Regions from separate parts of the Homo sapiens genome. Here region 2 is linked to region 1. The links come from fine-mapping of genetic effects on gene expression. A gene starts in region 1. The other region holds a variant in brackets. All regions are shown on one strand. Distances are from middle to middle. Region 1 holds the start of P2RX1 (purinergic receptor P2X 1). Region 2 overlaps ZZEF1 (zinc finger ZZ-type and EF-hand domain containing 1).

The links.
Region 2: its variant is fine-mapped to the expression of P2RX1 in transverse colon (GTEx, PIP above 0.99).

Annotation. Positions count from the first base shown.
Region 1 is chr17:3,914,557-3,918,783 of GRCh38, forward strand. It overlaps P2RX1 (purinergic receptor P2X 1), which reads right to left and starts at 1,909. Exons shown (of 12, transcript NM_002558.4): 1 at 1,533-1,909. The coding sequence starts at 1,669. RefSeq lists enhancers at 31-110, 221-290, 1,013-1,082.
Region 2 is chr17:4,077,433-4,081,937 of GRCh38, forward strand. It overlaps ZZEF1 (zinc finger ZZ-type and EF-hand domain containing 1), which reads right to left. Exons shown (of 55, transcript NM_015113.4): 18 at 3,944-4,058; 19 at 451-610. Among named protein-coding and RNA genes, the nearest start is that of ZZEF1, 63 kb to the right of the region's middle. The variant A/C (reference allele first, on the strand shown) is at 2,211.

The DNA.
Region 1 (4,227 bases):
GCCTCTTCCAGCAAGGGTAGGCTGGGCCTGCGCAGACAGCCTCTCCCAGGGACGGTCAGGAGTGATACTAAGGGTGGACTTCCGGCCCGTCCTGTACCTGGCATCCCACCATCAGTGCCCAGTAGAAAGGATCCACAGCCCCTTGTGATGGTGAGGAAGGAGAAGGCACAGCAGAGGCCTGGGGGTCAGGAGGGCTCAGCTGCAACCCTGGGTTTGCTGCTGACTTGCTGTGGACCTGGAAACCCCACTGCCCCTCTCTGGGCCTCAGTTTCCCTCACAAGCTCAGACATCACAGATGTCAAATTAGTTTCTGAACAAGAGAGAGGAGAGGTCAAGGCTGGGGTCTGGCCCTGGGTCCACCTGGCCGGCTCTGAGGTTCTGGGGACTGGTGGGACAGAAGGAGGGCTCTTTTGGACGCCAGAAGTTTCCGGGGGACTAGGACTTCATGGTCCTTGTTTGGGCCCTGGGTCAGCCTGCCCTGGACTCCATTTAGCAGTTCTGGTTCGGAACCATGGTAAAAATGGGGAGGGTAGAGCTCTCAGAATCACACGGCAAAGGCAGGCAGGGGCTACTGGGCACCCCTAGGACCCCAGCAGGGGCTGAGCCCCCTCCAGTGGCCCTGGGGCCTCCAGGAGACCTCTGCAGAGTCACTGTGAGTGGACAAGATGCACCACACACAGGGGACACACACTGGCCACCCAGACACTTGGCCACAGGGCAGACATGGGCACAGCCATATGTACACATAAGGGTACCCACATGTGGGCACTCAGCACCAGGGACACACACCCAGACACATATAGGCACAGAGCTCCATATGCACACTCACAAGTGTGCCAGCCTCTGCCAGGCCTGTCTTGGCTCCCGAGACAACCATACTGCAGGAGCGTCCCACGCTGCCTCTGATTCTGCACTCCCAGCCCGGTGGGACAGGTCCGGAGATGCCCAGAAAGGAACTATCATCCCTGGGACCAGAACCAATCTCTGTCCTCCGCCTGACATGCCAACATGAAGGCACCAGGTATTCAGAATGTGAGAGTTTCTCTGCTCCGGGGGCCTCAAACGTCCCTGGATGTCCCTTGCTCAGGCAGGGAAGCTGGCAGCAGAGTCTGTCTCTCTCTAACTTGTCATATGGGGTGACGGGTGTGGGGTATGGCCTCTGTGTGTCAGTGGCGGCCTGGTTTGGCAGGCGGTCAGAGGTCGAGGACTCAGTGGCTGTGGTTGGTGGTGCCCTGGCCCTGAACACCACTAACCACTCAAAGGAACCATAACACTGAGCCGGCTCCTCAGAACCCAGAGACTCTGCCTCCTGTTCACCGAAGGCCCCCGGGCAGGGCTTCCCCTCCGGCCTCGTCCCCATCTCAACAGCGAGTTGGCAGGATTTTCTATTCTCGCACAGTGGCTTGCCAGGAAGGCCTTCCCCTGGATGGAGAGGAAGAGGGGCTCGCTGGTGTCACGCAAGGGATGTCAGAGTCTGGAGGACAGGCCCGGGGTAGGGGCTGGTGCAGGCAGCGGGAGGCGCCCGGACTCACCCGATGACGTAGACCAGGACCACCAGCTGGATCAGTCGGAAGATAACGCCCACCTTCTTATTACGCACCAGCACCATGCGGGGGGTGTCATACTCGAAGAGGAAGGCGGCCAGCTCCTCCTGGAACCGCCGTGCCATGGTGGGCCGGCTGGGGCTCAGAACTGAGCCCCCTGCACGGCCTCTGCTCTCAGGGTGAGCCGGGTGCCACCACCCACGTCGATGGTAGAGCTTCTGGGGGCTTCCTGGCCCCTTAGGAAGAGCAGGGCGGTGCAGGTGGAGCCAGAGGACAGGAGCCAGAGGTCAGCTGGAGGCACTTGGGTTGGAGAGAGAATCCCTGGGTGATCAGAGCAGCTCTTGGCCCCTGGAAGGCAACAGACTGCAGGCCAGCCTCGCCCATGGACAAATAAATTCCCAAAGATAGATGGGGCGGGGCTGGTGGGGCCACCCAGGCCCAGCCCCACTGCCCCTCCTGGCTCTGCGTGGGCCTTGTTGGGCCTCCGGAAACAGGAGTTGTTGGCAGGAAACCACAGGCCACCCGTCACAGGGGCAAAGATAAAGCTCTCAGTCGACTCCTCAAGTTATCCTCCCCCCAAAACCTGGCAAGATGGAGCTCTGGCCAGGGCCTGGGGGAAGCTGGAGTCTCCTCAGATTAGGGGACTCCCCGCGACTCCCCTCCACTGCCAAAATGAGACCTCCATCCCCAGCCCCATCCACCACCCTCCACCCTCCCCCACCAGGGTTGGCTGCTTCGTCCCTGGGGGTCTGCAGCGAGCAAGGCAGAGAGGAAGGAGGCTCTGAGTTCCAGCCTGGCCTGTGCCCGGTCAACCTCGGTGCTGAGCTGGCATCTCTATCCCCCAGCTCTCCTCTCCCACTGTCTGTCCTGCCGGGGCCACCATCAGAGGGAGAGAGGTGGCAGGTGCCCAGCCAAGACCAGCACCACATCCGTCACCAGTGCCATGGGGGGCCCAAGACCAGCCGAGAGAGCCTGACCTCGGAGATCCCTGGCTCTGCCACTTCTTGGCTGTGGGGGCTGGGTGTCACCTTGCCTCTCCGAGCCTGCTTCCTCATCTGTAAATTGGGGTAATAAGGGCTGTTCCTTCTAGGTCGAGGCTCACAGGGGATGGGTCTCAGCAACACGGGACAGAGAACTGGAGGCCACCATTGAGTCTGGGGCACAGCACCTCTGCAGTCCCTGCCTTCCCTTCCCACCCCCAGCTCGGGCCCTGAACACAGGGGTTTGGGGTGGGCAGAGGGTCCCACGTTGGCTCCTCAGAGCTGGAGGCCTCCCCAGCCCCACCCCTCGTTTTGAAGATGAGAAAACCAAGCTCAGAGAAGAGAAATGAGTTGCCCAAGCTCACCCGGGGTGGTACTGGAGGTTCAAGCTGGAAGCAGGGGCCTCCCTGGCGAGCCCCCACGGCCCTGTCGTCGGAGCCGCCCCACCCTTAAGGCTGATAAGGAGTCTTCTTGCTGGCGAGCCATGAGCTGGAAGTGCTCTGGGCAGGGAGCCAGGCCCTGGGGCTGGGAATCCCGGCAGCCTGTCTGAATGGGGGTCACCCACAGAGGGCTGCCCATGGCCCCTTCCAGCACCCAGGTCAGTCTCTCCTTGTCAAGTAGATCAGCCTCACCCCTCGCGGAGTTTCTGCTAATCCAGTGGGTGTCATGGGCTTTTCTAAAGAAAATCCAGAGATGCTGGGAGCCAGAACTGTGGTGGCCACGTCTCCCCTTGGCCTGACCTTGACCCTAGACAGTTCCTTTCCCAGCTGCCCCTGTGGCCATTGGAATGGGAGGCACCAGGACACAGCTGCTTGTGATGGGGAGTGGGGTGGGTGCTGAGACTGTGTGGGCCATTCTGGGTCCCTTTTCAGCCACCCTTCTCCCTGATATGCGTTCTAGAGAGTGGGTGGGGTGGGAGGGAACGGAGGGAGGAAGGGAGGGAGGGAGGGAAAAGGAAGGGAAGGGAAGGGAGGGAGAGAGGGAGGAGGAAAGGGAAGGGAAGGGAGGAAGGAGGGAGGAAGGGAGGGAGGGAGAAGGAAGGGAAGGAAGGGAGGGAAGGGAAGAGAGGGAGGGGAGGGAGGGAGGGGAGGGAGGGAGGGAAGGGAGGGAGGGAGGGAGGGAAGGAGTAAAGGAAAGAAGGAAGGGAGGGAGGGAGGAGAAAGGAAGGGAAGGGGAGGGAGGGAGGGAGGGAAGGAAAAAAGGAAGGAGGGAGGGAAGGAGGGAGGAAAGAAGAAGGAGGGAGGGAAAAAAGGGAGGGAGGAAGGAAGAGGGAGGGAGGGAGGAGAGAGGGAGGGAGGGAAGGAAGGAAGATCAGGAAGTTCTTCCTCTCACATCACCACCATGTCTTCTTCCTCCTCCTCCTCCTCCTCCTCCTCCTCCTCCTCCTCCTCCTCCAAGGAGCCACACTTGCTGACAGAGAGATTGACGGATGGACTGACAGACTTGCTTGGACAGATTGATGGACTGACAGAGCACACACACGTGATTCAGTTACAGCCTAGGCCCTGGCCCTGGCCCTGAGAAAGTGGACTGGCCTGGAGCACCGTCTCATTTGGGGATCTTATCATATCCACAGTGTACCCCAGGGACCTACATTTATTTTCCTGCTGCTGATAACTCCACAAGAGCAAGACAGCCAGCTGTCGGGGTCAATGTCTCTTTCACTGGCTCTAAAATGCATCTTTCTGATCCAAAGGCTGTGA
Region 2 (4,505 bases), 160 kb after region 1:
GTTGGGTTTCATATAATTTTCTGTGAGTTTACAGAACATGAATCTAATTATTCTCGGTAATCAGCAATGGTCACAATGCTCATACACCTTAGATTTCTAAAATTCAAGACTTTCATTTTTAGATGACTTGATTAAAACAGGGATAGACTCTCCTGAAGAGCGAGACATCACGTAAGAGTGCTATATGATTGCAAAAGCAATATTTAGGCTGTGAAATGATCTAATTCTACAATAAAAATACTTAGGCATACCACCACACTCAGAGAGTAAACTCTAGACAAAAAGACATGCTGTTGAATTCTATTTTAATTAGACCAAACCAGTCCAAGAATCTGAATCGTAATGAAGAAAGCCATATGCACACTCATTGCATGAGTTACTAAAGAAGAGAACACTCAGAGTCAAAACCCAAACGCCATCTGTTTTCATGGATTTTATATTGAAACTCACATTTTTCAATAAGGTCCACGGCAAGATCTTTGGCTCCAGAGTCCGTGCTCTTCAGCTGCAGGTAGCACCAGGATAGCAGGCTGCCTTGGACGGACCAGAACAGGGAGAAGAGCACAGAGCCCACCTCCCCTGGGGCCCCACTGAGCATTAACAGCTCGCACTACAAGGGAGGAGACAAACAGAAAGTGTTCGTGACAAGGCCATTCACAGAGCATAGCCAAGGGCATCCTCTAAAGCAGCAGCTGTCACCAGCAAAAACAAACTATAGCCACGGAAAAGTCATGAAACAGCTTTCAACCCAGCAGTCACCAAGAAAGATGGTATTACGAAAACTCCCCTTTCCCTCCAGCTTTTTGGAACCTTTACAAAGGTTTTTTATTCCACATGACATCTCCTTCTACCACCTCAGGAACCTTACCCCCCTGGGTATCTCTTCTTTCTCTTACATCTTAAAATGTCCTTTCTCTGGCTCCTTCCCTCAAGCCTTTAATCAAACCTCTCCCACCTTAAAAAAATCATTATTCATGCCTCCATGGCTCTCTAACCATCACCTTTGTTCTCAAAAGTTTCTTTGAAGGGTTATCTGACCTCCAGATACGGAAGATTGTACACTATATGATTCCATTACAGGTACAACCCAGGCAATACAGATGTGCTGGGTAGGAGTAAGTAGAAAGAAGAACAAGGAAATGGTGAACACAAGCTTCGGGATGATGGTTACGCCTGGCAAGGCAGGAAGAGAGTGAGCCATGAAAAGGCATGTGGATGGAGGGAAATGGACTCAAAGATACTGGGAATGTCTAGTCCTTAAAAGAGACACTTGCCACATTGTTGCAACTACCTGATGACATATTTGCTCCTCAAGACTGTGCTTTTTTAAAATCACTGTATCCCCTGTTCCTAGCACAGGGCCTAACACACAGCAGGCATTCAGTGGATATTTGTTGAATTTGATAGATTCCTGAGAAAAATTTCAGACCAGGTACATTTCTGATCACCTTTAATTTTTTTTCCTGATTGAACCCTAACTCTTTAGTATAACCATAAATGTCTTTTACTAAAAGATAATTCAGGGAAACACATTAATAGCTGCATCTCTAGCAAGGAGGTTTAATGATATCTGTAACTTCTTTTGTACCACAGGTAAGTGAAAGAGAAGAAAAGACACACAACTGATCTCCAAATGGTATATACAATTATGCGAAATTCTCTTGGGCAAAATGCTATCTCATTTCTCCACGTACATCTTAAAATAAATCTGGCCTATCTTATCTAGCAGAAAGAGGACAAGGCTCTGAGTCAAACAGCCCCGGTTTCAGTCCTGGCTCTAGCACCTACCCACTCCTCACGTGCGGGGCAGAATCGACTCCTATGAGAACCAGGTGAGAACGCTGAAGTTTTCTGCCCAATGGCACTGATGATGTAACAACAGAAGAAAGACTGGTGAGGGGGAGAACTCAGTTCAGGCTTCAGGGATCTGAGAAACAGGTAGAATGTAGATGAGCTCCAGAAGAAAGGGAAGGTATGGGAAATGCAGAAATAAGGATGGAGATTCGAATGAGCCATGGCTAACTGGGGCCGAGAACACATACTGATGAGACTGAAGTGAGTTTTTTAAGGAAGACTCAGAGATGGGCAGAAGAGTCTGGAAATAAGCCAGAAAGCAGAAAGTAAGAGAAAATTAATGTGACAGCAAAAAATAGAGCATAGTTTTTTAATTAAAAACAAAGTTGAGGCTTATAAAGTCAACGTTACCCTAG[A/C]TCTAAATTAATACTAGATCTAAACAGTGGTCAGCCTAAGAGCAACCTTGGCAAATGATAACCTAGGCACCCTACAGGTGCTCTGAGGTCCCCATCAGTGAATTGGGGGAGACACCTGCTGATGGCCTATCATGCCAGGCAGCTGGGAATGAATGAAATCATGGCTCTAACAGCAACTCAAAACAGTAAGGCACCCGCAAAAATGTAAGAGATTTAAAGACACTAAGTTCAGTCAAAAGATACAAGATAAGTTATCAGCCACAAAAGAAAAGTTACCTTCAAGTCCACATCATTAGATACCTCAAAGATGTGGTTTGGACTAGTCTACCACAAAATCTCCTCCAGCTCTCTGGTTCCCATATTTAGCCCAAAGAGATAGTTCTTGGTTTCCTAGTACAGGGGTGCTATCACTTTAGAATCTCTCGGGGTGCTTAGAAAAATGCAGGTTCTTAAGCCCTATCCCTAGAGATCTTGAATCAGTAGCTTAGGGTGGGATCTAGAAATCTTTTTTCTGTCAAATATCCCAAGTGACTGATCCACTTGGAGCATAAACTACATTTTAAGAAAGAAAATCCCTTATATTTTTTAAAAAAGGCAAATTTAAAAAATCACTAACACAGAAAAAAGATAATATACTTTCAGATTTGATTAGTCCACGAAATTGCTAAGAAATCTGAATTTTTTTTTTGTTTTTTGTTTGTTTGTTTGTTTGTTTTGAGACAGAGTTTCGCTCGTTGCCCAGGCTGGAGTGCTATGGCGCGATCTTGGCTCACTACAACCTCCGCCTCCCAGGTTCAAGCGATTCTCCTGCCTCAGCCTCCCGAGTAGCTGGGATTACAGGCATGTGCCACCACGCCCAGCTAATTTTATATTTTTAGTAGAAAGGGAACTAATTTTTAATTAAAAATTAAATTAGCTCAGCTAATTTTGTATTTTTGTATTTCTCCATGTTAGTCAGGCTGGTCTTGAACTCCCGACCTCAGGTGATCCGCCCACCTTGGCCTCCCAAAGTGCTGGGATTACAGGCATGAGCCACTGTGACCGGTCCTGAATTTCTTTTTTAAAGTCCAAGTAGTTTTCCTGAAAATTCACACCACTAACACATATCTGTGTGTTGGGCTCACTGACAACCACTACAAGGGGACTTGATATAAATCCATTCCTCTTTTTCCACAGGAAGCATTATCGAGCACTTCTGTGTTTTTATCGTTTGCTGACTACCAAGAACCGTAACATGCCCTCACTCGTTTGCAAGGGCTGGCTGGGAAACCTTTGTGATCATTTGTAAGAGTCAAGTAACAAAGTACATTCATGCCAGGCAGAGTGGCTCACACCTATAATCCCAACACTTTGGGAGGCCAAAGTGGGAGGATTTCTTGATTCCAGGAGTTCAAGACCAGCCTGGGCAACATAAGAGAGACTCCATCTCTACAAATAATTTAAAAATTAGCTGGGCGTGGTGGCGTGTGCCTGTGTCCCAGCTACTTGGGAGACTGAGGTGGGAGGACTGCTTGGGCCTGGGATGGGGAAGCTGCAGTGAGCTGTGATTGTGCCACTGCACCCCAGCCCGGGTGACAGAGCAAGACCCTATCTCAAAACAACAACAACAACAGAAAAAACCACAACAAAGTACATTCATACTGCAAAGAGGCAAAGGGGGGCACAAGAGACTGCCACATCACGTGCCCCCACAAGCATGAGACAAAGAAAACAGGGAGGCAGCCACTGGATACCTCTCGAGCAGCAACAGAGACGAGAGTGTCCATGACCGCCAGGACTTCACTGATGTTCATCTTGGCCAGGTCGTTCTTCTCAGGTAAAAGAAGAAGGCCGCCTGGATCCTTGTCACTGAAAGGATACAAATTAGTCATGACACCTGGCTTCAGGAGAAAGATTTTTATACTATTTTAAAAGATTCCAAAACAGAGCGCAGAAAGGTTTCAGTGTCATTTCCATGGGATGGGAGGAGTTTGGGTCAGGAATACAGGCTGTGGACCCAGCTGGGGCTGTGCCGCTGTCTGTCCACATGTGCTTCCATTAGCACAGACTCACAAATCCTCCAGTCCTGGATGAGACCCTGAGGTAGAAGGCTGATGAATAAATCACCTTGGCCACCAATATGAAATACACCTCATCTCACGACTGCTAGCTTCAAAGTCCTGGCTAAACGTTCCTTGTGTCTTCACATGTCTTCACAGGACGGCCCCAGGCCCTTTCAGCATCCTTGCTACTTGATTCTGAGCACATTTTAAACAGACAGCCCTCTAAGTCTGGCATCCATACCAGGTATAGTCT